Regions from separate parts of the Homo sapiens genome. Here region 2 is linked to region 1. Evidence: fine-mapped expression QTL. A gene starts in region 1. The other region holds a variant in brackets. All regions are shown on one strand. Distances are from middle to middle.

Region 1 (11,624 bases):
TTCTTAATCCCACTCTTCAATACCTAATTTTTAAAGAAACGCTTTGGTGTAAGTCTTACTTTTTTCTTCCTCACTGTTGTCCGCAGAGAGCACACTTAGCCAATACCTCCATCCCCAAAGGTTGCCTTCCAGCATGGCAAGACAGAAGCAAAAGCTCTTATAGGCAGGCCCTGGCTCCAGGGATGAAGATGGGAGCATGAACAGTTCAGATGCAACTGCCTGGTTCAGCTGTGATCAACCTTGTTATAAGAGGAAGAACTTTGCCCCTGCCTCAGTCTGGCACCCATCCCAGAGGTGCCTACATTCCTCTCTAGAATGAAGACCGACACTGCTAGGGCTTCTGGAGTTCCCCATTCTCAAACCACAACCAGAACAGAAACATAGGCTTTGCAATAACTCCACTGGTCCAACTTCCCCTGGATGCCCACAATTCTGCTTTCCCACCTGGGCTCTCCACTTCTCCTCTTTCTGACACAACCACCCTGTGCTCTCCACTTCTCTTCTTTCTGACACAACCACCCTGTGCTGGGATGGGGAATAGGGACAGTTAGAGCAGGACAAGGCAGCAAGGGCAAGGCTGAGGCTTCACCTTGCGGAATAAATTGAGAGGTGGGAGATGGGGCAATAGGGTCTGTGAACAAAAGCCTAGAGTAGAAAAGTCTCAGGCCTGGCACTGGCAGAACCTAGGAAAGTGATTAGGTTGAGAGTACACCCTGCTTTCATATACAGGCAAGTGCGCACACACACACACACACACACACACACACACAGCTTGGCCACTCAGAAAACTGGTTCCAGTATACTTTCATATACAGGCAAGTACACACACACACACACACACACACACACACACACACAGCTTGGCCACTCAGAAAACCGGTTCCAGTATACTTTCATATACAGGCAAGTACATACACACACACACACACATACACTCACGCACACACACGCGCGCGCGCACACACACACACACAGCTTGGCCACTCAGAAAACTGGTGCCAGCATGGGTTTGCTTTGTCACCTGTCTCCTGCCCAAACTCTTCGCAGTTGCAGTGACTGTATTCTTGCATGCCTCAAAGGTGAGGTAGGTTCCTGCCCAGCTGATGAGCCCAACCCTTAGGTCCTCAGCCTTGGGATGTCTGTGTATCCACTCTGTCTCATCCATGGGGCTGACACCACAGGTGATGTCTCCGTCTGGCCCAGCCCTCCCCCCCGTGGTGAGGTTCCACAGGCCATAGGGCCTGGAATAGGGCCTGTAGTACCCACCAGATGTTCCCAGAGAGAACTTCCCAGGCAGAGGCTGGCCTGGGGCCCAGCACCTCTGTGACCCGGGAGCATTGTGACTGTGAGGGCAGCCTCTTATCACACCACAGTGGGGAAAGGGCCCTGGCGCAGCAGCATTAATCCATGGCCTAGAGGAGGCGGGTGCAGAGCCTCCGGTGTTTGCCTTCCTATTCCCCTTTGGGCACCAAAGTAGGCTGAGCTGAGACCAGGATCCGGAACTTCAACCTGTGAATTTAGGCAAGTTTTTTCCTTTCTTTACCTCCGTTTCTCATTCTGGTAACAGGATAGAAAGCAACCTCCTTTCTCCCAAGGAAGTGAGTTCTGCCTGGCTCCCTTGCAACTCAAGTATTTTGTTAAGTTCAAGATAACCAAGAAAAATCTATCAGCTTTTATGGCCCTTAGGAGGATGAGGTCAAAATGTTCCAGATGCTATTTTGCAGGGAGTATGAGGAAACCCTAGTTAATCAGTTGACATCAAATTACTCATATTCATCAGGAAGGCTGGCTCAGGACCTGGGTAAGGAGAAGGGCCTAGGTGGAGAGAGCACCAAGCACCCCTCCTCAACCCCAGCTGCTCTGCCAGTGGGTAGGACATCTGGCTGGGCAGATAGAGCTCCTGCAAGGGTATCTTTCCCCTCCAAAGAATCTCTGAGTTATAGTCTCTTGGACTCACTTCCTGCAAAGCTTGAGGAGAAAACCCAGCTCAGAACCTGGAAAAGTGACATGAAAGAAAAACAAAGGCAAAAACAAGTGATGATGAGTTCTGCCTAAGCCTGGCTAGGATCCAAGGGAAAATGGGCAGTCGATCACACTTGGGGAATAAGCCACACCCCTGGTTCCTTTTTCTGAGTCAGGGTCTTGCTCTGCTAGCCAGGTTGGAGTGCATCTCAGTTGACTGCAGCCTTGATCTCCCAAGCTCAAGCGATCCTCCCGCCTCAGCCTCCTGAGGTGCTGGGACCACAGGTGTCCATCTCCATGCCCAGGTAATTTTTTATTTTTGTTTTTTGTAGAGATGGGGTCTTGCCATGTTGCCCAGGCTGGTCTTTAACTTCTGGGCTCAAGCAATCCTCCTACCTCAGCCTCCCAAAGTGCTAGGATTACAGGCATGAGCCACAGTGCCCAGCCACCCGTGGTTCCTTATACCTGCTTTCCTATTCCCCATAGGAGGGGTCTTCCCAAGTAGCAAGAGTCTCAGTGGTGTGCAGCAAGGAACTACAAGCCCCAGACCCCACCGATGTTTTATAAAATAAGGGTAATAGACTATTAGTGGCAGAATTCCCTGGGTAATTTTATTTATTTATTTAATTTATTTATTTATTTTGAGACGGAGTCTCACCCTGTCACCCAGGCTGGAGTGCAGTGGCACGATCTCAGCTCACTGCAAGCTCCGCCTCCCAGGTTCACACCATTCTCCTGCCTCAGCCTCCTGAGTAGCTGGGGCTACAGGTGCCTGCCACCACGCCTGGATAATTTTTTGTATTTTTTTTTTTCTAGTAGAGATGGGGTTTCACCGTGGTCTCGATCTTCTGACCTCGTGATCCGCCTGCCTCAGCCTCCCAGAGTGCTGGGATTACAAGCGTGAGCCACTGCGCCCGGCCTCCTCTGGGTAATTTTAAAGATGCATATTGTTGGGCATCAGACTAGTCCTGATGAATCACATTTTCTGAAATGTACCTCAGGATTCGTATTATTAACGCACATTCTCTCCCCCTCTAATTTTAATGTGTAAGGCAAACATTAAGAACGGCTCTAAGTAGCTACGAGAATGATGGGAAACAATTACGTGGTTCATGGAACTATGAAGGGAGATCCTGTAATCTTCAGCAAAGGCTCCTTGGAGCTGGGAAGGAATGAGATTTGCACCACTGTAAACCCTACAGTATTTCCAGCCCAAGAATAAGGAGGGAGAAGCTGAGCTGAGGGTATGTGTGGGTGGGGTTGCCCTGCAGCCTTAGCTGCTTTGATCCTCTCCCACGTTGTCTCTTGGTACCCAGTAACCTAGCCTCTCCTTTGCAGGCTACAGACAACACCGTGTACAAACCACAGCAAATTTATTACTCAAGATCCAGTGCCACATTATAGCACCACCCGAAGCCCTCACCTTCCCCCTCCCAACCTGGCCCCTAGAGTACACCCAAAACAGAAAAAAAAAAGGAAACCCAGATCCCTGCTCCTCCTCTGGAAGAGGGGGCCTTGGCCAGGAAGCCCCTTCCATAGGTCCCAGCAGGCAGGAGAGTGGACCCCTCTGTGCCCAGAGAGCAAGGCTCCAGGCTCCAACAACAGAGAGAACATGCAGGCAGGAGCAGGAGCAGAGGCCTGTGGCTATGGGGGAGGAAAAGTGGGAGGAAAGGGCACTGCCTGAGGAGTCCGGGAGTCTGGTCATCCCGGGGATGCACGCAGGAGCTTCCGGGCATCAGGGGCCTGCCCCTGGCTGGTTAGCGCTTTGACAGCTCGTGGGACAGCCAGTCCAGACCATCGTACAGACCTGTGCCTTGGGTGGCACAGGTGGCCTGGACATACCACTGTGGGGAAAAGGAAAGAAAGAGGTCAGCAACCAGGAACAAAAGGAATGCCTTTATATCTCTGTCCCAGCCTGCAGCTTCCCTCAAGAGGCAGGATTCAGCACCAGGTGGGCAGGACCCCTACCGTGCGGCTGCGTAAGTGCTGTAGCCCCAGCTTGTCAGTCAGCTCGCTCACGGGCATGGCGTTGGGCATGTCCTGCTTGTTGGCAAATACCAGCAGCACTGCATCCCGCAGCTCGTCCTCCTGCAGCTGAGAGAGGAGAAGAGAAGGTGGGACCCAGGCTGCGTCTCCTCTACTGTGTTGGGGAATTCCCTTTCTACCTCCTAGCATCTTGATTGGAAAAAAAAAGTATTGTGCAGTCTGCCGTTGAAGACAAGACATAGTTGTAAATGAGCTTGAGGTGACCTGAGCCCATAAGTCCAGAAAAGAAAGACCTTTTCCTAATTTGAGTACTTGCCTAGGCAAAATGACAACATTTCCAAATGGAAAAGGCAGGAATGTAAAATGTTTCTCTTTGCCACATATAAGTCCCATCTCTCCCACAACTTCTCAGACTCAGATGTAAAGACATGAGAATGCGGCCGGGCGCAGTGGCTCACTCCTGTAATCCCAGCACTTTGGGAGACCAAGACGGGTGGATCACCTGAGGTTGGGGGTTCAAGACCAGCCTGGCCAACATGGTGAAACCCCGTCTCTACTAAAAATACAAAAATTAACTGGGCATGGCAGCGGGCGCCTGTAATCCCAGCTACTTGGGAGGCTGAGGCAGGAGAATTGCTTGAACCCGGGAGACGGAGGTTGCAGTGAGCCGAGATTGCACCATTGCACTCCAGCCTGGGCAACAACAGCAAAACTCCCATTTCAAAAAAAAAAAAAGACAAGACAATGCACAGAAAAAGTGAAAAAGTCACTCCCATCCAAAACAGGGTGAGATACACAATGTGTCTGTCCACAAAGAAAAACTTATATTCCTGGTCTTCAATGCCTGTTGGGGGCTCCCTGACTTCTATACCACTACAGAGATCACTCTGTCCCCAAGCTGAGGGCTCAGTTCCCAGGGCTCTGGGTACTCACCATCTTCTGGAGTTCATCAGCAGATTCTTGGACCCGCTCCCGGTCATTACTGTCCACCACAAAGATGAGGCCCTGGGCAGGAAGGAAGGAAGAAAGGAGAAGCAATCACTTCTGCCTGGGACATACCGTAGTGTGGCCCTTTCTGTTTTCTTCCCATTTGTAATTGTGTCAATCCTTCTCATCTAGTAAACTCTACAGAAGTTTACAGAACTCTATAGAAGCTCTACAGGAGTCATGGCACAAACTAGAGACCCCACTGCAAAGAGGAAGTAGTTTATCCAAAGATGTGCAAGGAAATAAAGACATGTTATGAGGGCTAAATCAGGCAGCCTGGTCCCAGAATCCTGCTTCTAAAGAGAAGTCCAAGCTGGGGAAGACTAAGGTGAGTTCTGAAGAGTGAGTAGGGGATAGCCAAACAGAAGGGGTAGAAGTGGGGAAGGGTTTTTTCCTTGGCCTGGGGGCCCAGCCTAGGCCAACAATTCTGTTCTCCCAGCCCTAACACCTTTTCCCGTGGGGTTAGAAAGTCCCCTCCCAACACTCCACCTGAGTGTTCTGGAAGTAGTGCCGCCACAGAGGCCGAATCTTGTCCTGGCCTCCCACGTCCCAGACTGTGAAACAGATGTTCTTATATTCCACTGTTTCTACATTGAAGCCTGCAGATAATTGGAAAAAAAAGATGAGAAAACTCCTGAAAGAAAGGAACTCACTAAAACTACTTAGATTTCAGCAGGGACACAAAACCAGAAGGCAATGATCAAGGCCCAGGGGAACAGAACCCCAGAACTGGCGGTCAACAGGGCGGGGCTAGGTCACATCCACCCTGCCTCCGGTATCCACGTAGAGATACCCTGACCCACTTCTCAAATAGCTGTATCTGGTGTCAGGGTCAGCTCCAGAAAAGTGGCAGAACTGGGAGCAGACCCCGCGAGGGCCCGCCGCGGCGCTCCCGCTCCCTGCTTCGTCCCCGGGCTCACCTATGGTTGGGATGGTGGTGACAATCTCCCCCAACTTCAGTTTGTACAGGATTGTGGTCTTGCCAGCCGCATCCAAGCCAACTGCAACGGAAAGGGGCACAGGGATGGAGATGGGAGCGAGGGAGCCCCCTAGAGACCAGGGAAAGGGAGAGGCCACAACAGCTGATGGTGACTGGGGCGGAGAGCGGGAGCGCCTCCAGGTGCGCGTCGTTATCTACCTTTGAGGCCTGGAGGGCAGTCGGGTGGCGTGAGCCAACTCCAAAGAGGGCGCGGAGCGGGAGAGGACTGGGAGGCAAGGGGCACGGGAGGTAGGCCGCGCTCGTTTTAAAAGTCGTCTCCAAGGGCGGAATCCTCCCTTCTTACCAGCCGGGCTGGGGCGGAGGGAGCTTCACCCCACCCAGGCCCGCAGCTCCGGGTGTCAGGCCCCGGGGTCGGCGATGCAGACCGGGACCCGCCCGAGAGCAGAGGCCCCGGGGCGTTATGAGGTGGGTGACTCGGGGCCAGAGACCCAGGTGAGCGGGGCTGGAGGGACGCGGGGGCGGAAGGGCTGCGCCGGGGCCGGCGCCCCGGTCCGGGCCGCGCGCTCGATCTGCCTCACCCATGAGAATCCGCATCTGCTTCTTCCCGAAGATCCGCGAAAAGAGCGCGGACACGGTGAGGCCCATGGCGGGGCCCGGGGAGGGGCGCGGGCACCGACGCGGGGTGCGGGCTGGAACTGGCCGGCCGCGGGGGGATGGGGCGCAGCAGCAGCAGGAGGAGGCTCCGCCGCCGCCTCCGCGCGTCGCTGCCCTCCCGACGTCACCGCGGGCCCGCCCCCGTCCGGGCCCCGCCCCCGGCTCTCGGCCCCGCCTCCCCCGGCTCTGGCTCCTAGGGGAGCTGAAGCTCCGCGAGTTGCCGCTGCTGGCCTGGGTCCCGTGCGGCCCTTACTTGGGAACGGGTCTAGGTCTCTAACGCGCCTGCCAGGCCTGTGGCCGCCGAACCGGCAGCCCGAGCGCGGCTGAGGAAAGGATTCATCGCTCCGCAGCGGCCCCTGCCCCCATTTTCAGTGGCCGGCCGCTGGGCTTTGGTTTGTTGCGTCCAGGCCCCTAGGGGCTCCGGTTTTAGCCCTTGGGAACCAGTAGCACTGAACGTGTGCACCACTCTCCTTTGGGGAGTGGAAGCTGCGATTAGGGGTCTTGGTCCTCCCTTTACTGCCTCATCTTCCACCGAGGGACTTGCGCGTAGTAGGTGGTCGTGTGAAGAGTGCGCGGGAGGTAGGGGAAGGTGCCCGAGTGCTAGCTAGCTTCCATGGTTCCTCAAAACGCCTACTTCCTAATTCCCAATCCGCAGAACCAGTGTAAGATTCCCGGCCTTGGGCGGCGGGGTCACAGACCCACTCCTGGGCTGTTGGAGAAGTCCACCTTCGTTTGGATCGCCCTGCGGGCCCCGCCTCTCAGTCCAGGCGCTGGCCGCTTTGCCGAAGTTCCTCACTTTGCCACAGACTTGTGGACCTGGCTTATTCTTGCACATCCATTCAGGATTTTGTGAAGATCTTGACTCCGTAGACCCAAAGAGCTTCACATGTCATTTCCCTGCCTCATTTTAACATCTGAGAGGAGAATAGCAAAATAGGAATGAAATTCTTCTGCGGTGGAGACTGGCTCATTGCCAGGCATTATTAGGCCTAACAAATGCTTGTTCAGTTGAACTGGACTGATAGATTCTCAATGGAGCGAGGGTAGGTGTTATGTCTACTCTGGATTCCCAGTGGGCTTCTAGGATCAATTGTTTATGGACTCGAGGTAAACTGAGCTGGGAATAAAAAAACCTTCACTCATTCATTTGCTTTTTCAGCAGATATTTACTGAGCACCCACCACTTGCCAGCACGTGATTTCAGGCTTTAGTTCAAATCTTAATTCTGCCATTTCTTGAGGATTTGGCTTCAGCACTCCTCATAACTCTTCCGTTATTTCATCATCTATAAAATGAGACTTGTTCTAACTTAAGGGGTTATGGTGAATCTTAAAATGATTTGATAATGTGACTGAATGTTATGTATAATACAGCTTGATGTTATTTGGGCCACTGAGAAACGGGGTCTGAACAGACCTCCAGGGCCTGCCCCATCCTGATCTGCAAAGTCTGTAACAAGGACAGACTTTGGGAAACAGGTATGAGTGAGTGAATGACTTTCCTTTTCTCTTCAGTCATAGACTTGCATCCCTAAGAAGGCTTTTACGAGGCTGAAGAGTACATTTTAGAGAGTTCCAATATAATAACAGAACTAGTGTTCACCAAGTTAGGTCAATTCTACATTTAGCTCTTTTATCAGCCTCTTTGCTTCCATCTCTGTTGTCACTACCTTCTGTTCCCCATGACTGAAAGTCTCCTCACAGGTTTCCTGCCCCTTGTTCCCTCCAACATGTCATACAAGTCTTGATGACATCCCACTTTTCAGATTAAAATCCATTAGGGCCTTACTATAACCCAAGATAAAATTTAAATGCCATAAGTTGGGTCCCTACCTATTGTGCCAGCCCCTCTGTTGTCACCTCCTTCACATACCCTAAGCTACTGAATGCTTTCTGGGTGAGTCAAACTCCGATACCCTACAGGTCTTTGCATTTTTTTCCACCTGCCTGGAATGCTAGTTTCCCTGATCTCTGGTTAGGTGGACAATCACGACTCATCCTTCAAATCCCAAAGTATTATTCCCAAGAGCCTTCCATGCCTCACCTAGACAGGCCTCTTTCCTCTTAACTTTCATACCACTTTGAATATACCCAGACATACTGGTGTGATAGCAGGACATATTTGTATGTCTGGTTCCTCACTAGATTGCGAGCTCCCTGAGGGCAAGGTCGTGTCTCTTAATGGTGTTACCATCTGGCACAGCACGTGATACGTTGAGAATCAGACTGATTAGAACTCCTAAACTTACTAGCTGTGTGACCTTGGGCATGTTACGTATAACCTTTCTGCCTCATGTTTTCATATCTGTAAAATAGTGCTAATGAGTATAGTGCTTACAAGAATTACTGTAAAGACTAAATAGCAAAACTCTTGTGAGCTCCTGGTATATAGCTGGCACTCAGGATAGACATGGCTATAGAGTGCCCTCCGTAAATATTTGTGGAATCAACTCAGCAGAACTAAGGAAGGGTACTATTAGGCTGTATGCCTACTAGGTACCAAGCACTGTGCTATAGAGGACTGCAGTTTTCGTGGTCTAAATGGGAGTCTTAATTGTTGCCTTTTAGGGACCATGGGTCCTGAGCTCCCAAATCGTTGGATGCGTCGTTCACCTGGGTGTTTGGTAAGAATGCAGTGCGACGTTGCTCTGTCGCTCGCTGAGCGTAGCCCGAGGTCAAGCTTGGGCGCTCTCACAAAACCGGTGCCACTCTGGTGTCTTCGACTTTGCTGGCTTCGCCTTTCCCAAGCCTGTTTTTTGCCGCTCGCGGCCCCACTGCGTTCTCAACAGGCCGCGCCCACCCACCGGCCGACTTGGCCCCGCCTACCTTGGGCCCACTGGGGGCGGAGCCTGCGGCGCCTCGCTGACGTCACTTCCAGCGGACACGGAAGCGCCGTTGTCGGCAGGCAGCTTTAGTTAGGATGTCGTGATGGGACCGAGCTCAGCGTAACCCTCTGGCCGACGTGGGCCGAGGGGGCCGGCCCGGGCTGCTGTGGCCCAGACGAGCGGAGAGTGCGGAGCGGCTTCTGGGCCAGCGCTAACGAGCCCTGGCAGTGCGCACCTCTGGTGCCAGTGTCGCCCCGCCTCCGGGGTAGAATCCGCCCCAGCCCTCCGGGCCTGGGACCGGGCGGCCGCTTTCGCCAGTCCGTCCGGCCGTTCCGCATTAGGTCCGGGATAACTAGGTGGAGTAGGTGTGCGGCCCGCCGCCGGACAGCCCGCTCGCTGTTTCTTTAAGCCCCCGCCTGCGTCTTCACGGCCCTCTCCCGTTCTGCTGGAAAGCTGACGTGGGGCAATCCGTTCAGACCCTCCATGGAGAAGTTTGGGATGAATTTCGGGGGCGGCCCGAGCAAGAAGGACTTGCTGGAGACTATAGAGACCCAGAAGAAGCAGCTTCTCCAGTACCAGGCACGGCTCAAGGATGTGGTCCGTGCCTATAAAAGCCTGCTGAAGGAGAAAGAGGCATTAGAGGCCAGCATCAAGGTGCTGTCGGTATCCCACGAGGCAGATGTGGGCCTCGCAGGTGTCCAGCTTCCAGGCCTCACCTTTCCTGACTCTGTGGATGACCGGTGCTCCACTCACAGCGAGGATAGCACTGGGACCGCCACTAGCTTGGATACTGCGGCCAGTCTCACCAGCACCAAGGGTGAGTTTGGGGTAGAAGATGACAGACCGGCCCGTGGACCACCACCTCCAAAGTCCGAAGAGGCCAGTTGGTCCGAGAGTGGCGTTAGCAGTAGCAGTGGGGATGGGCCATTTGCAGGTGGGGAGGTGGACAAAAGACTGCACCAGCTGAAGACTCAGTTGGCTACTTTGACCAGTTCTTTGGCTACAGTCACTCAGGAGAAGTCCCGCATGGAGGCTTCTTACTTGGCTGACAAGAAAAAGATGAAACAGGACTTAGAGGATGCCAGTAACAAGGCGGAGGAGGAGAGGGCCCGCCTGGAGGGAGAATTGAAGGGGCTGCAGGAGCAAATAGCAGAAACCAAAGCCCGGCTTATCACGCAGCAGCATGATCGGGCCCAAGAGCAGAGTGACCATGCCTTGATGCTGCGTGAGCTCCAGAAGCTGCTGCAGGAGGAGAGGACCCAGCGCCAGGACTTGGAGCTTAGGTTAGAAGAGACCCGAGAAGCCTTGGCAGGACGAGCATATGCAGCTGAACAGATGGAAGGATTTGAACTGCAGACCAAGCAGCTGACCCGTGAGGTGGAGGAGCTGAAAAGTGAACTGCAGGCCATTCGAGATGAGAAGAATCAGCCAGATCCCCGGCTGCAAGAACTTCAGGAAGAGGCTGCCCGCCTTAAGAGCCATTTCCAGGCTCAGTTACAGCAGGAAATGAGAAAGGTAATTATCCATATCTCTTTCAAACATCAGCCATTGACCTGAAGTGAGAAATATTAGGGTTTTTTTCCTCCTTTGCTAGTTAGAGCTAAGTGTCTATACTGTCATTTTTGATGCCACCTGAGAAGTTCCACTAGTGAACCTGGGAAGTCCTGTTCTATGCGGTGTTGACATATGTGCTTCCAGGAGGATGTGGAGCTTCTCAGTGTAGGCTGGGTTGAAGCCAGACAGCTCTGCACTTCTGGGCATTGGCATCTTACCAGCTGTGCTCTATGAAGCAGTATAGTGGCAGCTGTATAGTAAAAGGTAGCGTGTCTTCTGTTGGTATGTGCCTCTAGGAAGAGTGGCCGAAGGCAAAGGGGATTTTCTCAGAAGTAACCTCTTGTCATTGCCTTTACTCAAGATGTGCCTGTTCTGGAGAAGTGCTATTTTCCAGAACAGGTATTGAAAGGGTGCCTCCTTTCAATGTGGAGAGGGAGATCCAGCGCAGTTTTGAACTTCCAGGAATATTGGATAAGGAAAAGAATGCTGTATGATTTCTTAATAGGATTTGAGGAAGCACCTGAGAAACAACAGTAACACACATTATATGTGGTTAGGTGGAAAGCAGAACAATAGCAGATGTACCAAGGTGCTTCATATTGTTCAGTATAATATGTGTCTTGCAGAATCCAAGCAGGTAATAGGAACTTTTGTTAGCTCCTGAATCAACCGAAAAATCCCTAGTTAGCATTCTTGCCAGGCCATCCCAAACCTGTG
Region 2 (11,624 bases), 57 kb after region 1:
AATTTCAGAAAGTTTATACAGCTCTCAAAAAACCAGAACTCTTTTTCTTTGTACTGTATTGCTGTAATTAATAGTTAGGACTATCAGGACTGCAAATAATTTAGAAGATTTGGGGAAAACTGAATATTTTCCATCACTGAAAACAATTCAATTCCATATTCTCTTTCCTGTGTATGTGCTCACCACTGACTTCTTTCCCTGCCTTCCTGACTCCAGGGGTGGAGGTGGGGTAACATTTTCAGTTTGCAGAGTTTTGCATCCATATTTGTTTTCTCTAGATAATTCTCAAGATGGTTAGAAGGATTTGGTGGCTGGGGGTGGTGAACACCTATGTGCAATTTGAATATCTTATTAGCTCTGTCAATTTCTAGCTAAGCATGTGACCAAGAAGTTTGGATCAGGGTATTCAGATTGGAGCCCCTTGTAATAGCACCCTTTCTAAACATTTTGTGTGATGATTAGAGCAGCATCATGGTCTTTTGTTTCCAGAGTGGGTTTGGGGAGCAGCAGACAGCCCAGGATTTTGAGTTCATTTCTTCTGGTGCAAAAGATTGAGCCCAAAAAACTGGCAAAAATCATCCCTGGTTGCTCATTCCTGCAGATGACTTTCATATTTGCTGGAGCTGCCTATTTTCAGTGCTTTCTGGGTCCTGCTCAGTCCCTGAAGAGGCAGTTGCACATCTTGCTGCACATGCCCTGTAGCCCTACCTTTGTGCAGCCGTTCCCTCCTCAGTAAAATGTTCTCAGCACACAAAAGTAGCCGTTGAAGGGTACAGCTTCGGTGCAGCATGCCGGCTGCAGCGCGCCGCTGCACCATCTTCAGTGGTGACAGACGCTGCAAACCCTGCCTAGGAAACTAATGGAGAGTCCCTAAGAAATCCAAACTCCAGCTTGGCTCACCCCAACCTTCTCCCCCACCTTCAGACCCCCAGGTGAGACTAAAACAAACAGCACACCACGCGACCAGCAGACAGCCCGGTCAGCGTTCCTGTAAGAACCTGGGCTTGCAGCAGGCGGATCATCGCGGAATTCGACCTGAATCCTAGCATGTTTTGTTTTGCTGAAAGAAATGGTGTCATCATTGTTTTCCAGCAATTTATTTTCTTGTGGTAACGTAAAACATTTCCTCTGGGATGGGCTGAGAAAAGTCAGATAGACATTTTTACAAGTGTAAAGTACTTTGGCTTGATTCAGAGTGTGAGATTTCAGAAATGCCTCCTACTAACCAGGTTACCCAGGCAGGGCTTCAAGCTGCCCCTGAGAATGGTGGCTGAAAGCCAATGGCTGAAAGCAAATGGGATGCTGCAATTTGTGGGGATCTGTTTCAGCATTTATATTTAAATACATTTCCCTCGAAGAATTCTTAATTGGAGATTTCGCCTTGAGATGCTCAAATAAATCAGGGAGCCAAACCTAGTTATTTCGCTTCGTAACCAAGCTTTATTTCAGGACTTTCTTTCCCCTGCGGTTCTTGCCCCAAAGCGATCTGTAAAGCGAACCCACTCTGATACAGTTTGAAAAGTGCATTTTGTACTTGGCTCTTTCTTTGATCGAATTAATCTGGGCTTTTTTGTAGTTCTAAATGAGGCCTATGGGCTGACAATGTAGCTGTTTAAAGGGGATTTTAGGGGATAATAGTCAATGCAAATAGTGCCATGAGAATGGCAACTTGCTTTTGCACTTTCAATCACATAATAACAGCAAAGAAAGCTTTTAAAATGAATTGAAATTTTGTGGTGTGCCATCTGGGATTATTTGGGGAAACAGTTCTGAATACTGCAGTTGGGCAAAAGAATGGAGGTATGGTCTGCTCTTAAGCTGACATGTTTCAGATGGCAACCTTATGCTAACTGGTGCAAAGTTGGCTAGCATTTTTTTTTTTATTTTCTTTCTCTTGGATTATCTGCAAAAATTCTCTTTGATTGCTGGTATTTGGGTCTGAAAAACTTTTCTATTGTTGAAGAATTCAATTCAACTCCTTGCAGCTGCTGATCCCCTTATTGTTCTACTCGTTATGTGTACGCGTCTCAGATGAATGTAGCCAAGCCTTTTAGTGCCTTAATAGGTGTCTACATAAAGGTCATTTATTCTGTCCTACTTGTTTCAACAAAAGTTTATACACAAACAACAACCACAGCTAAAACATTCACATTAATCAATTTCCTCCTGATGCAGAATGCAAAAACCGCCTCAAGCCATGTCTAGGCAAGAAAAATGTTTTCCGTATATGATGTTGTAAAGCAGCAAATAGTTTAACCAATTTCATCAAGAGCAAAGCATAATTGTTTCAGCACAGTTTCTACCTGAGAGAGCCCATTCTGGTGCTTCTGTGTCTCTGCCACCACACTCAGGTTAGGATTGAGGGCAGAGAGGGACTTAGGATGAAGTTTGTTGAGGTTTTAGCTCTTTCCTCAATGTTTACCCTAGTTTGGGGGCTGTTCTCTATAAACTTGTGGTGGGCATAAGCTATTGTCTCTGCAGGAAGGGATGCATAGATAATACTAGAATCTAGAGAAAATTGCATAAAGGAGTACAATCAGGTATCTAGAATTTGCAAAAAATAAATTATTTCCTTGCAGGTATAAGTGCCCCTGATGTACAAAATGACCACAGCCATCCCTTTTCATCGTCAAACTCCAGCAATGGCTGCTTTTAGAAAGAAGTAAGTGATGAAAATAATAAGCTCCCAATCGTAAACACTGGTGAGGATGCTGACATGCTAACTAAAATGCTGGACGGGACAGAGACAAGCAAAGGTTTCTAAGGGGCCTTGTGCTGTGAGGGGACTGCCCAGCACAGTGGACGTCATGTGGGAATTACAAAACTCTGGCCACGTGGGGGAGGGAGCAAGGAGGCCCACCCACCCTGCCTCCCACAGCAACTCCAGGGAGCTTGCCTCTGCTGCCGGGTAATTCAGAGACACTGCCACATTCTCCAGTCCATCTCAGGATGATACTTAGCCCTGTCATCACCCAAATCCTTCAGGAAATTAAAAACACATGACACGGCATCTGCAGGTTCTTCTTCTCTGCTGCATCCATTTGCTTGCTCATGAATCTTCCAAGCTCAAGGCTTAGACTTGAAAGGTTAAGGATTCAAGTCCTAAGATGCCTCACGGGATTTTGTGAAGGCCAATAATGCTGTGATTTGACCTCTGTGTATGGCTCCACCCCTTTCTCTTTCCCCGACCTCATTGAGGGTCTCTTTCCTTCACAGGCTTGGTTGGGGCGAGGGATGCGGGGTCATTGCTCTTCCAGGACAGCTACCTGATTCTCTCCCATGATCACTTCTCAGTCATTTGGTTTGGATGGGTGCTTCCCAAATTTTAGTGAGCATGTGGATGACTGGGGTTCTTATTAAAATAGATTCTAATTCAGTTGGTCTGGAATGGGGCCTGACAATCTGCATTTCTAGCCAGCTCCCTGGTGAGGCTGATGCCACCAGGGGCTCTGGATTCTAACTCACCTGGAGACGAGGTGCACTCTCACTGTCCCAGAGCCAAATATCCATTTGTAACATGATGGGAATAAAAATGCCCATTGATGCAATGAGGAATTTCTTGACTTTTCAACTCCAGTAGCTTTTCTGGGAGATTAGGAAGGGTGTGGGGACAGTCTAGTTTTAGGTAGGCTTATCTTACAGTTTATCTTGCACCTGATTTGATTCTTCGGTTTCAAGCAGCAGAGACAAAGTAAGTGGTATTTGGTCCCAGTCTTTGATCATTTCTGTATTATTCACTCATTTAAAAAATTACCAAATATATATCAGAGGCCTACTACAGGTGGGCACTGTACCAGGTGCTGTGGGTACAGTGGTAGCAGACAGATCTCATCCCTGCTCCCCCTCGGTTTACACTCCTAGAGCCTGGAGCAGGGAGGCTCAACCCTAGCCACACACTGGAATCACTTGAGGATTTTTTACAATTGATAAATGCCTGGGCCCCACTCCCAGGGAATCAAATTTAATTGGTTGGAGAGGAAGCCCAGTCATGAGCATTTTTGCAGAGCTGCTTAGGGGATTCTGGTGTGCAGCCAGGATAGAGGACCCTGGCTCAAAGGATTGAACTACATGGGGGAGGATGTGGGTGGGAATTGGGAGAAGAGCTGTCCCAGGTCCAGACTCCAGAATGGGGGGCGCAGGATCTAAGGGATGAGCATGTAAGTGAAGCTCTCTGTTTCCCTGCCAGCCCACCTTTCTAGAGCATCAAGCCCATTATAGTAAAGGAGGAAATGGCAAAGTTACCATTGCACATGGCATAACCTTGCAGCGTCACAATGTACTCATGTATAGTGATCTCATGTACTGGTTCTAAGTCACAGTATATGCTGTCTTCCTGTTCCTAAAAGTGAACTAGCCCCTTCACTGTTGCTTTGGTGCAAAAGAGGGGCAGGTTCTAGTTTGGGTGATCATCATGGTTTCTCTGGAACTGAAGGGTTTCCCAGAATGTGAAACTTTCAGTGCTAAAGTCAGGAAAGTCCTGGGGAAACCTGGATGAATAGCTCACCCTACTTCTAGTGTGATGACTGTTACTGTGGGGTTCTAAATTTGACATCAAAAGCATAATTCATAAAAGGGAAAATTGATCAATTGGATCTTAAAAACTTTTGCTTTGAGAAAGTCTATGTCAAGGAGATGAAAAGATAAGCTAGAGACTGGGAGAAAATATTTTCAAACCACATATCTGATAAAGGACCAGTATTTAGAATATATAAAGAATTTTCAAAACATAGCAATAAAAACCAAATAATTCAATTAGAAAATGGGCAAAAGGCAAGAAAAAGTATTCACTGAAGAAACTACACAGATGTCAAATCAGCACATGAGAAGATGTTCAACATAACAAGGCATTAGAGGTATGCAAAGTAAAAACCACAATGAGATATCTCTACATGCCTATCAGAATGGCTAAAATGAAAAATAACAGTGATGAATGCTGGTGAGGATATGGACAAAATGAATCACTCATATATTGCTAGTGGCAATGTAAAATAGTAAAGCCTCCCTCCCTCCCTCCCTCTCTCCCTCCTTCCTTTCCCTTCCCTCCCCTCCCCTCCCTTCCCCTTCCCTTTCCCCTTCTCTTTCCTTCCTTCCTTCCTTCCTTCCTTCCTTCCTTCCTTCCTTCCTTCCTTAGTCTTGTTCTGTTGTTCATAGCTCACTGCAGCCTTGAACTCCTGGGCTCAAGTGATCCTCCTGTCTCAGCCCACTGAGTAGCTAGGACTACAGGTGTGCATCATCACACTTAGCTAATTTAAAAAAAAAATTTTATGTTTGTATAGACAGGGTCTTGTTATGTTGCTCAGACTGGTCTTGAGCTCCTGGCCTCAAGTAATACTTCTGCCTTGGCCTCCCAAAGCACTGGGATTACAGGCATGAGCCCCTGGCACCCAGCCAAGTTGTTATCTTTCTATGCATGCCTGTATCTCTATAATATGGTGATAACTGTATTAGTCTGTTCTGGCATTGCTATAAAGAACTACCTGAGACTGGGTAATTTATAAAGAAAAAAGGTTTAATTGGCTCACTCTTCCACAGGCTGTACAGGAAGCATGGCAGGGGAGGTCTCAGGAAACTTACAATTATGACGGAAGGCAAAGAGGAAGGAGGCACGTCTTATGTGCCAGAGCAGGAGGAAGAAAGAGAAGAGGGAGGTGCCATACACTTTTAAACAACCAGATCTCGTGAGAACTCACTCACTATCATGAGAACAGCAAGGGGGAAATCTGTCCCCATGAACCAATCACCTGCTACCAGGCCCCTCCTCTAACACTGGGGTCTACAATCTGTCATGAGATTTGGGCAGGGACACAAATCCAAACCATATCAATAACTAATGCTCATAACAACAGTTCTGAAATATTATTGAATCTTGAAGTGCTTTTCAATTATCGAAAATGTTTTATAAGTGTTATTATCGGTAGACTCTACTGTATCACTCTTTTCTGCAAAGTGGTATCCATAGATGGGCTCCTAATGGTGTCTCTTCATTAATTACTAGCTGCTGATCCAGAGCATGCTCTCCTCCGGCACCTGGATGTTTAGGGTTGAAGGCATTTGGAGGAGAGAACTCCAAACTCATTATGTTGCTAATAGAAGGGCTCATCTGTTAGCTTAGGTCATTAGCCCAGTTGGATCTTTGGGTTCAGGAATCCTGAAGTGCCAAACCAAGGGACTTGTTTGTATTGGTCATGCTAAAATGGCACCTTACTGGAGCTCCTACCTCTAGTACCTGAGAAGTAAAAACAGCTGATTCCCATATAGTATTTACTATGTGCCAGACACCATTCTAAGTGTTTTACACATGTTAGCTCACTTTTAGTTCTCCTTACAACCCTATGATATGTACTACTCCTATCCCCACTTTACTAATGAAAAAACTGAGTCACAGAGAAGTTAAATTCTCCAGTGTCAAAGCTTAGTAGAACTTAGTTCATCTGGCTCTGGGGTCCAGTCCCTTTCAAAAAGTATACAAATATGTAGGCTTTATAACAGGTCATCTATTTGAATGCCAAATATTTTAACATGCCCTGAATTTTCTGGAATTTGTCTTGGTTCCCGTTTTCTAAATCAATTTATTCATTAAGTGTCTACAACACAAAGCCTTTGGACCTACATACAATATTCCAGTTTGACAAAATAGTAAAGTTACAGCAGGATGCATTAATTGTAGAGTCTTGCAGATGGCAAAACAGTATCAAGATAGAGTAATATGATTCTAAATGTCATTGTGCATGTTATCTGTTTTGAGAAATCCTGCATAATTTACTGGTACTATGGAATATATGTATTTTTCAACTTTTATTTTAGATTCAGGGGTACATATGCAGGTTTGTTGCCTGGATATATTGCATGATGCTGAAGTTTTGGGTAAGAATGATCCTGTCACCCAGGTACTGAACATGGTACCCAACAGTTA[G/A]TTTTTCAACCCTTGTCCCCCTCTTTCCCTTCCTGCTCCAGTAGTCCCCAGTGTCTATATTGTTGTCATCTTTATGTTCATGAGTACCCAATGTTTAACTCCTATTTATAAGTGAGAACATGTGGTATTTGGTTTTCTATTCCTATGTTAATTTGCTTAGGGAAATGGCCTCCAGCTGCATCCATATTGCTGCAAATCACATACTTTCATTCTTCTGTATGGCTATGTAGTATTCTATGGTGTGTATATACTACATTTTCTTTATCCAATCCACCACTGAGGGGCACCTGTGTTGATTCCCTGTCTTTGCTATTGTGAATAGTGCTGCGATGAACATGCAAGTACATGTGTCCTTTTGGTAGAATGATTTGTTTTCCTTTGGGTATATACCCAATAATGGGATTGCTGCAAATGGAATTTCTGTTTTAAGTTCTTTGAGAAATCTCTAAACTGCTTTCCATGGTGACTTAATTAATTTGCATTCCCATCAACAGTGTGTAAGCATTCCCTTTTCTCCACAACCTTGCCAACATCTGTTGTTTTTCTGACATTAATAATAGCTGCTCTGACTGGTGTGAGATGATATCTCATTGTGGTTTGGATTTGCATTTCTCTGATGATTACTAATGTGGAGCATTTTTCATGTTTGTTGCTGGCTTGTATGTCTTCTTTTGAGAAGTGTCTGTTCGTATTCTTTGCCCATTTTTAAATAGGGTTTTCTGTGTTTTCCTTGTTGAATTAAATTCCTTATGGATTCTGGATAGTAGCCCTTTGTTAGATGCATAGTTTGCAAATATTTTCTCCTATTCTGTAGGTTGTCTTTTTATTCTGTTAATAGTTTTTTTTGCTCTGCAGAAGCTCTTTAGTTTAATTAGGTCCCACTTGTCATAATTTTTTTGTGATTGCTTTTGAGGACTTAGTCATAAATTCTTTCCCGAAGTCAATGTCCAGAATGGTGTTTCCTAGGTTTTCTTCTAGGAGTCTTATAGTTTGAGGTCTTACATTTAAATCTTTAATTCATTTTGAGTTAATTTTTTATATGATGGAGGTGAAAGTCCAGTTTCATTCTTCTGCATATGGCTAACCAGTTATCCCAGTATCATTTATTCAATAGGCAGTCTTTTCCTCATTGCTTATTTTTGTCAACTTTGTCAAAGATCAGATGGCTATAGGTGTATGGCTTTACTTTTTGATTCTCTCTTCTGTTCCACTGGTCTATGTGTCTGTTTTTGTACCAGTACCATGCTGTTTTGTTTACTGTAGCCTTATAGTATAGTTTGAAGGTAGGTAATGTGATGCCTCTGGCTTTGTTCTTTTTGCTTGAAATTGCTTTGGCTATCTGGGCTCTTTTGGTTCTGTATAAATTTTAGCATAGTTTTTTTTCCCAATTCTGTGAAAATTGACATTGGTAGTCTCATAGGAATAGCTTTGAATCTGTAGATTGTTTTGGGCAGTTGGCCATTTTAATAATATTGATTCTCCCAATTCACGAGCAGGGAATGTCTTTCCATTTGTTTGTATCATCTGTGATTTCTTTTAGCAGAGTTTTGTAGTTCTCCTTGTTGAGTTCTTTCACTTCCTTGGCTAGATGTGTTCCTAGGTATTTGTGTGTGTGTGTGTGTGTGTGTGTGTGTCAGCAGGGGTACTATTGTAATTGGGTTTGCACTGTGGCTATTGTAAATGGGTTTGCATTCTTGATTTGATTCTCGGCTTGAACATTATTGGTGTATAGAAATGCTATTGTTTTTTGTACATTAATTTTATATCCTGAAACCTTACTAAAATGATCAGTTCTAATAGCCTTTTGGCAGGGTCCTTAGGGTTTTCTAAGTATAGAATTATATCATCAGTGAAGAGAGATAATTTGACTTTTTATTTTCCTATTTGGATCCCTTTTATTTCTTTCTCTTGCCCAGTTGCTCTCGCCAGCAATTCCATTACTATGTTGAATACAAGTGGTGAGAGTGGGCATCCTTGTCTTGTTCCAGTTCTCATGGGAAATGATTCTAGTTTTTGCCAATTTGGTGTGATGTTGGCTGTGAGTTTGTCAATAGATGGCTCTTATTATTTTGAGGTATGTTCTTTGATGCCTAGTTTCTTGAGAGTTTTTGTCATGAAGGGATGTGGGATTTATCAAAAGCTTTTTCTGCATCTATTGAGATGATTTTATGGTTTTTGTTTTTAACTCTGTTTATGTGGTCAATCACATGTATTGATTTGCATATGTTGAACTAACCTTGCATCCCAGGAAACAAGCCTACTTGATCATGGTGAATTAACTTTTTGATGTGTTTTTGAATTCAGTATTTTGTTGAGGCTTTTTGTGTCTATGTTCATCAGGAATATTGGCCTGTAGTTTTCTTTTTTCATTGTGTCTTTGCCAGATTTTGGTATCAGGGTGATGCTGGCTTTGTGGAATGAGTTAGGGAGCAGTCCCTCCTATTTGTTTTTTTGGAATAGTTTCAGTAGAATTGGTACCAGCTCTTCTTTGTACATCTGGTAGAATTCAGCAGTGAATCTGTCTGGTCCAGGGCTTTTTATGATTGGTAAGTTTTTTATACTGATTCAATTTTGGAACTCGACATTAGTTTGTTCAGTGTTTCAATTTCTTCCTTATTCAATCTTGGGACATTATGTGTTTTCAGAAATTTATTTTCTCTAGATTTTCTAGTTTGTGTGCATAGAGGTGTTCATAATAGTCTCTGAGGATCTTTTGTATTTCTGAGGGATGAGTTGTAATGTCACTTTTGTCATTTCTGATAGTGCTTGATTGGACCTTCTCTCTTTTTTTCTTTGTTAATCTAGCTAGTGGTCTGTCAATCCTGTTTATACTTTCGTAGAACCAACTTTTGGTTTTGTTTATTCTTTTTACGGATTTTCGGGTCTCGATTTTTCGAGTCTCGATTTCATTCACCTCAGCTCTGATTTTAGTTATTTCTTTTATCCTGCTAGCTTTCAGATTAGTTTGTGCTTGTTTTTTGCCAAGGAGAAACTGCAGCTGTAGTAGCCTCTTCCTGCCCCAGGCTTGTGACTGGAGAGAGCCCAATTCTAGCCCTACTGCTGAGGCACTTTCGACAGTTCTGGCTGTTGAGGCCCCTTCCATAGTTCAGAGTAGGTGCTTGAGACTAAAATGCCTGCGTGGCCATGCTGCCGGGCTGCCTAAGAGTGGCTGATTGGTATGTGCTTGGATTAAGAATGGCATCCTGCTCTCAGTCCTGGGTCTAGAAAAATGTCTGCAGCTTTTCCTGGTGTCTTTCCCTCACAGCATCTCCAAGCCTCTCCCCAACTTAGCTCCAGGGCTTGGGAGAAACAAAGTGGTCTCCCTCGGCCTGGGTTGCTCAGAGCCCCAGTGGAAAGGTGAGTCACAGAGAAGGGGGTCTCTGCCTCTGTGACTGTTCTCTGTCTTCCCTAGTTAGCAAATTCACTACAGATGTGCTTACCTATGAATACCAGAATGTTTTTTATTTTATGGTATGTTTGTAGGCTTGGAGAGATTTGAATGGCTCTAGATCTAACCACAAGCTGCTGTTTCTTCATGTGGCATGTATTTACTTAAAAATAAAATGAGGCTTCATTATCTCATGACTAAGTCTAAGGGTTTTTTTTTGCAGGAATTGTTATTGTTGACATTATTATTATTAATGAAATTAATAGTAATTTCTCCTTTAGTCATTTCTGTTTCTCTATTTTCTGAGAAAAATTATTGGCTGCACTGGGGGTAAGTTACATGATTTTCCTCTTTTTTCACTCTTAATTTAGACTACTGGGCTAGGTCCATGTGGGAACTAATGATCGGTAACTAACTTTTTGGTAAATTACCACTTGAAGAAAAGGGGAGACACCTTGAGAACGAGAAGTCAGTCTGTCAAAACAGTAAATAGAGACATCCCTGTAATTTTGTAATTTTTCAAATTATGCCAGTAATGTTTGCTTGATGATGTAAGAAATAGCATCTCAAGCACACAGGCATCAAAATTAGCTGGAAAAAAACCTGCTAGGCCATCATCAAAGAGTCTTCTGTCTGACTCGGAACATAAAGGGCAGAGACAACAGTGTCTGTTGCTGTGACTTGCCACAGACTAACATGTGCACATCCACCAATTTTGTGACCCACAGGAGCAATAAGAGAGTCGTGGCCAGAATTTAGCTGCATTATAGAAAGAAAATGTTTGTGTATTCAGGGACAACTGAACTACACCTCAAATCTTATTAGGCATTCTTTCTCATCTGAGAAATCTGGCAACTGGCAAAAGATGGAAAAAAGTACCGAGTACACACTGTCGTAATGGAAGTGTTTGTGCAAAATGATCAGAAGACTTCTTCCACATTTCCTTATTAAGTTCTGCATTATGTCATCATAAGCTATTATTCTACGTTGATTACTATTTTTGTAATATATATGACTTAAATATAATTCTATTTGACGTCTCAGAACATTTTAGAACTGGAAGGGGCCTCTGAGATAATGGCTATAATTACAGAGTGTTCACCCCCTGTCAAGACCCCAATTAGTGCTCTGTAGATTGTTTCATTCTCTACAATGTGTGAGGTGGGTATAATTATCCGTCACTTTACAGTGAGCATAAGTGAGGCTGGCAAGGTTAAATAACATGACCAGAGTCTCCCAGCTGGATGAGCTGAGATTAAAATAGTAGCCCTGCTGAGTCCATTGTGTGTGCTTAATATCTAGGTTACGACTCCCCTGGGTGAA

Evidence for each region. PIP is the estimated chance that this variant, and not a neighbour inherited with it, causes the effect.
Region 2: its variant is the best candidate, but not a certain one, in a credible set for the expression of ARF5 in whole blood (TOPMed, PIP 0.83).

What each region holds. Positions count from the first base shown.
Region 1 is chr7:127,583,395-127,595,018 of GRCh38, reverse strand. ARF5 (ARF GTPase 5) reads right to left here and starts at 6,608. Exons shown (of 6, transcript NM_001662.4): 1 at 6,454-6,608; 2 at 5,856-5,936; 3 at 5,425-5,534; 4 at 4,882-4,953; 5 at 3,931-4,056; 6 at 3,319-3,806. The coding sequence starts at 6,520. The coding sequence ends at 3,720. GCC1 (GRIP and coiled-coil domain containing 1) reads left to right here and starts at 9,423. Exons shown (of 2, transcript NM_024523.6): 1 at 9,423-10,868. The coding sequence starts at 9,837. It overlaps LOC105375490 (a long non-coding RNA gene), which reads left to right and starts at 5,173. Exons shown (of 5, transcript XR_007060511.1): 1 at 5,173-5,263. LOC105375489 (a long non-coding RNA gene) reads left to right here and starts at 2,779. Exons shown (of 3, transcript XR_007060513.1): 1 at 2,779-2,890; 2 at 3,015-3,206; 3 at 5,068-5,150. It also overlaps FSCN3. RefSeq lists enhancers at 5,282-5,907, 5,908-6,534, 6,535-7,160, 7,161-7,787, 9,305-9,354 and 3 more and a silencer at 6,282-6,771.
Region 2 is chr7:127,526,187-127,537,810 of GRCh38, reverse strand. LOC105375490 (a long non-coding RNA gene) reads left to right here. Exons shown (of 5, transcript XR_007060511.1): 2 at 2,580-2,662. Among named protein-coding and RNA genes, the nearest start is that of GCC1, 54 kb to the left of the region's middle. RefSeq lists an enhancer at 319-3,479. The variant G/A (reference allele first, on the strand shown) is at 6,914.